Linked DNA regions of Homo sapiens: region 2 is linked to region 1. The links come from fine-mapping of genetic effects on gene expression. Tissue or cell type: subcutaneous fat. Region 1 holds a variant in brackets; the other region holds the start of a gene. All regions are shown on one strand. Distances are between the middles of the regions.

Evidence for each region. PIP is the estimated chance that this variant, and not a neighbour inherited with it, causes the effect.
Region 2: CLDN23 starts here. The variant in region 1 is fine-mapped to the expression of CLDN23 in subcutaneous fat (GTEx, PIP above 0.99).

Annotation. Positions count from the first base shown.
Region 1 is chr8:8,678,623-8,681,529 of GRCh38, reverse strand. No RefSeq gene overlaps it. Among named protein-coding and RNA genes, the nearest start is that of CLDN23, 22 kb to the left of the region's middle. The variant C/T (reference allele first, on the strand shown) is at 1,135.
Region 2 is chr8:8,700,963-8,703,843 of GRCh38, reverse strand. It overlaps CLDN23 (claudin 23), which reads right to left and starts at 1,907. Exons shown (of 1, transcript NM_194284.3): 1 at 1-1,907. The coding sequence starts at 1,445. The coding sequence ends at 567. RefSeq lists an enhancer at 1,114-2,081 and a silencer at 1,555-2,174.

The DNA of each region.
Region 1 (2,907 bases):
TGGCCTCTTCAACTTCTATCCACTCTGACTCCCTGTAGGTGGGGATTACTGCTGCCACCTCCCCTCCTCCCAAGATGGTCTTCTCAGATGGAGTCTCCTTCTTTCTTTCTTTGGCCCAGATCAAGGCCATCTGGCCCATGGAAGTCATAGCCGCTGTGATGCCCCTGGTGTGGTGCTTCTAGCTCCTCCTAGAGCCCACTCCTCCCTCTGCCTCCAGGGAAGTTCAGCCACAGCTTCTCGCTTTCAGCCTTTTTATAAAACACAAGTGAGGCTGGGCATGGTGGCTTACACCTATAATCCCAGCATTTTGGGAGGATGAGGTGGGAGGATCGCTTGAGGCCGGGAGTTTGAGACCAGCCTGGGCAACATGGCAAGATCCCCTCTCTAAAAACTTTTTTTTAATTAGTCAGGCATGGTGGTGCACACCTGTGGTCCTTGTTCCTCAGGAAACTGAGGTAGGAGGATTGACTGAGCCCAGAAGTTCAAGGCTGCGGTGAGCTATGATCATGCCACTGCACTCCAGCCTGGGTGACACAGTGACACCCTGTCTCTAAAAAACAAAGCAAAACAAAAACCATGAATGAGACACCAGTCCATGCATACTCTCCACACTTCAAGTTTTCCAACATTTTCTAATATTTTCTGGTTTCTCTCTGATCTGAAGCAGGTGGGTTGCAGAAGGGCACCCCTTTCCTTACCTGCCTCCTCCCATTTGGGTGAACTGCATGGCACCCCAGCAGCCCTCCACAAGGACACTCTCCCTGGCAGCCTCTCTAGCACATCTTATTAATATTCTCTTTTATATCTTGAGAGGAGTAATTGGCTCATTCGGCAATGGCGGCAAATGGGTTTGGGGATAATTCTGCAAGTCTTGTGGAAATGGCCAAAAGCCTGCCTGAAAACGTGGTGGTGCTTGACACTTCTTGTTTTCAGTTTTCGGTCCTTGGTCCAAACTCTGCTAACACTTAATCTGTGGATTAGGAGTTTACAAATGTCCTTTTTACAAATGTTGAAACTAAGACTCAGAAAGATTAAATAAGTTGCCCAAGTTTGCATGACTAATAAATGGTAAAATGGAATTCTGCTTACTGCTGTCTCGTGATTTCCCAGAATCCAGTGAGTGTTTACAAAACC[C/T]GGGATAGAGGTTAGGAGAGGTTGCTTGAGTTTCTGACTCAGCAGTTTTGTTGCTATTCATGTAATGGAAAACCATATTCTAAAACACAACTTTTCAAGCACAACCGATCTGTTGTATGGTCCTGAGTTTAGCTAAAATTTTATTTCTTGTAAAAACTGAGGCTATGTGGACTGTAGGTGAGTCCTTTTTGGTTCCCAGAGTTTAGAACAAAGAGTCAGGAGGCTGACCCCACAATCTCCAAAGTCCATTTTTCCATCTGAACAGATAAATAGGGTCCTTTAAGGTGGTGGAAAATAAGTACCTTTTTAACATCTCTCTAGAATAAGAAACACAAGGATATTGTATAACAGCTTAGGACTTTTGTTTCCCTTTGACTTCTCACATTGCTTTTGTGTAATGTTGGCATTCAAAGTTTCTTTATTTTTTTGATTAACATCCGTGTTTTTTCCTAGGGCTGCTGTTGCAGAGAAACACAGAGTGGCTTAGAACAACAGAAATGCATTACCCTGCAGTTCTGCAGGCTATGGTCTGAAATCAAGGTGTCAGCAGGGCCGCGCTTCCTCTGAGCCTCTAACGGAGGATCCTTCCTTGTGTCTTCCAGCTTCTTTTGGCCTTAGGCAATTTTTGGTTTGCAGCGGCGTTAACTCCAATCTCTGCCTCCTTCATTACGTGGCCTTTTCCTTAAGTGTCTGGGTCCACATTTCCCTGTTCTTAGAAGAACACCAGTGATATCTGACTAAGGACCCACCACTCCAGTCTGACTTCATCTTCACTTAGCTAATTGCATCTGCAAGGACACTATTTCCAAGTCAAGTCACATTCAGTGGTACTGGGAGTTGGAACTTCAGCATACCTTTCTAGGGGGCCACAATTCAACCCATCACAACTCTCAGTTACATATTTCCATCCCCATGGAAACAGGAGCTGCAAAGGGCATTTTTGTGAAGAAGCTAAGGTTGTCTTTGAAGCCTGCCTTCTTTTCCCAAGGGCAGAGGAAAACTTCTGCCACTCAGCATCCTACATTCTCAAAGCCCTCCATTTGGGACACAAGGAATTTTATACATTCACACATCCAATGTACATTGGTTTGGCTGTGTCCCCACTCAAATCTCATCTTGAATTGTAGCTCCCATAATTCCCATGTGTTGTGGGAAGAACCCAGTGGGAGATAATTGAATCATGGGAGTGGTTTCTCCTATACTGTTCTTGTGGTAGTGAGTAAGTCTATCAATATCTTTTGGTTTTTTAAGGAAACCCCTTTCACTTGGTCCTCTTTCTCTCTTGTTTGCCTCTATGTAAGACGAGCCTTTCCCTTTCCGCCATGATTGTGAGGCCTCCCCAGCTGCATGAAATTGTGAGTCCATTAAACCTCTTTTTCTTTATAAATTGTTCATTCTCGGGTATGTCTTTATCAGCAGTGTGAAAGCAGACTAATACATACATTGCTAGCCCTAAATTATTTTATGGTTATTCCTCCTAGAATCTTTCCCTTTTAAATGTTGGTAATTTGAGCTGAAGGAAAAGAATTTCTGGTTAAAGCAGAGACAGAGAAGGGGAGAAGGAAGCTGGCCTCGAGGAAGCTTCTTTGGATATGAATATGCCATAAGAACAAATCAGAAACACGGAGCCAATGACTTCAGCTCTCTGTACACTCCTTCTTACAGAACCAGGAAAGCAGACCCTGGGCCCAACCACTCTGCAACACAGGGAGTGTAAAACGCCTCCTGGGTGTCATACTCTACCTCTGTTGACTACTTGTGAGTGCACACCAG
Region 2 (2,881 bases), 22 kb before region 1:
ATGTAGCTATGAGTTAATCACGGTATTTCATTCCATGAAATCCATTAAGCTGCTGGCATTTGCATGGCTCTAAGTTTATTTTAAGAGGCTCATTCAAACATGGCCAGGAATATATTGGCCTCTTGAGAGTTTGCATGGCAAGGAGTTATACAGCAGGAAAAAGAAAAAAAACCCAATAATTATATTGATGCAAGATTCATCAGTATTTTAGAATATTGTCGTTTCAACATGTTAAATTGTTTCTGAGCACTGCTGATTTCAGCACTGTCCCTGGTCCACGTGACGCAAATGCCACCCTTTCCATATATTCTTCAGCAAAAATATATGAAAAGCCCGTCACTCCCTAAGAGGACCCTGATCCCTCTGGAGAGGAAAACTAAACTCTTTAAGAAGAAAACCAAACCCAACCTGAACTAATCGTCCAAGGAGTCCTGTTTGGTCCCACGAAAGGCAGATTTCCATCCACACCAGTGAGGGGCAAGTGTCCGGGTTCCAACTCGAAGCCAGGCGGGCCTGTGCGGGGGTGAGTCCTTTGCCACCCGGCGCCCCCCAGGCTCTACAAGCGTCTAGAGGTCGGAGTCGCAGGGCAGCGAGCTGTCGCAGGGGTGGGTGCTGCACGAGGGAGCGTCCTGGGACTCCCACCCCTCCCCGTCGAGGACGTCCACCGAGTTGGTGTAGGCCTTGGGCCGCGGCCGCGGCATGGGGAAGCCGACCTTGGGCTTGGGCTTGGGCTTGCGGTGCTGGGCAGGCGGCGGTCGGTGCTGGCCGTCGCTGTAGTACTTGATGGCGGGCGCCAGGTCGGGCTCGGGCCACTCCACTTGGATGGTGCTGACGCTGCTGCGGCGAGGCCCGGCGGAGGGTCCCTTGCGGCGGCGGCGACAACGCTCGTCGCACCAGGGCGCGAAGCTGAGCGCCAGCGAGAAGCCGCCCAGCAGCAGGAGGCAGCTGCCCAGGTAGCCCAGGACCAGGCTGTAGCTGACCTGCACCGTGACCGGGCTGGCCGGGGCGGGCAGCACGTCGCGGTCCCCCAAGAAGTGGTTGTACCAGGACACCGGGATGAGGCCGAGGAGGCCAGCGACGAAGAGCACGACGCCCGAGAGCCCTGCCAGCACGAAGTTGGGCTCGTCCTGCCAGCAGCGCACGCCCAGCGACGCCAGCAGAAGCCCCAGGACCGTGGCGGCCAGCGAGGTGACCATGAGTGCCCGCGCCACCAGCACGGGCTGGGCCTCGAAGTAGCCCCACTGGTCCGTCTGGCCGCACTCGCGCTCGCGGCTGCTCTGCTCGCGACACATGTCCCACAGGCCCTGGTACAACTCCACGTCCACTGGCTGGTTCAGGAAGCCCTTCACCAGCCGCCAGCCGGGCGCCAGGGTGCCGGTCAGGTTGAGCAGGAGCCCGCAGGGCGCCAACACCATGCCCAGCGTCATCACCACCGGCGTCCGCATCCCGGCCCGCCGCGCCGACGGCGCCCCTGCAGCCTGCCTTCCTTCTCCGCTGTCGCCTTCTCCGCCGTCGTCTTCTCCCTGCCGTGCCCCAGGCTCCGGGGACCCGAAGTCAGCGCGGACGCCCCGGGCTCCGGGTCGGGCTCCTGAGCCCTGATCGCTCCAGGGACGCTCTTTGTCTCCTGCACGGGGACCGTCCCCACTTAGGCTAGTTCCCTCCTGGCGTCCCGGCCGCTCCGCCCTCCTACTGGCCCTAATCGAAACCAGCCCGCGGGCGGGTCTGACCGAAACCGCGGGTCCGGGCGCGGGCGCCCAGGGGCGGCTGCCGCGGCCAAACCTGGCCCGGGAGGGAGGGACCCGAGGTGAGCGCAGGAAGCGGCGGGGCCACCTCGCCCGCGGCAGGTGAGATGGGGATCCGAGCGGCGGGGACACCCCACCTTGCAGCCGGGCGGCTGGGCCACGCCTGGCCTGGACTGCTCACGGCCGGAGCAAAGGTCGCCCCGCCCCTGGGTCCTCGCGCCGCCCCGCCGGGCCAGGCGGGCGGTGGGCGGGGAGGGAAAGAGGCGGCGCTGGCGGGACGCGGTGGCTGCGCAGCTTCCCTGCTGCTCAGCGGATCTCGGTTCCTAGAATTTGTTTCCGGTCCCTGCCCGTCGACCCTGCGCTTATAGCTTAGCCCTTTACTCCCAGAGGGTTCCAGATCGCCCCCTGGTTTGCTCTGCAACTTGCAGCCACTCGCAGAGAAGTGGGCGGTGCCGAGCGCTCCCGGGGATTGGAGGTGCGCTGGGTGAGTGTGCAGAAGCCCACCCAGTCCAGGAGCGTGTCCCAGAACGTTGCACCGGATTATTTCCTTAATAAAGGCTCCACACTCTGGATTAAATTCGTCTCTAAAGAATCTGTGCCAGTGTACTTCTGGGCAGAAGGGTTACACAAGGATTTTACTTTCCTTTTTCAGCCTTGTGAGACTTTCAAGGGGACTAGAAAGAGGGACCAGTGTTCCCGGATGTCCTGCTTAGCGTTTTTTGCAGGTTTATTTAATTTTACAGTGTACTGTGGCCTTTCTCGTCTGTAGGTTATTTTACAACTCTATAAATTATAGAAAGCCTGTAGTATTGCAAATGACTTTTGCCAACATCAAGGCTAATGAGTTCGTCCCAGTGGAATGATTATTGTCCAATGGATACTGACCAGTATGGCATTGATTTGTAAATTCATTTTAGCATTCCTGTTTGTCTGTATATGTGTGTCCTTTTGTTCTTTGCTTTTTTTTTTTCCTTTTTCTTTTATTTATTTATTTATTTATTTATTTATTTATTTATTTTAAACAGGGTTGGGGAGTTTCGCTGTGTTGCCCAGGCTGGTTGCAAACTCCTGGGCTCAGGTGAGTCTCCCGCCTCAGCCTCTGGAGTAGCTAGGACTGCAGGCAAGTGGCCAGCTTCTTT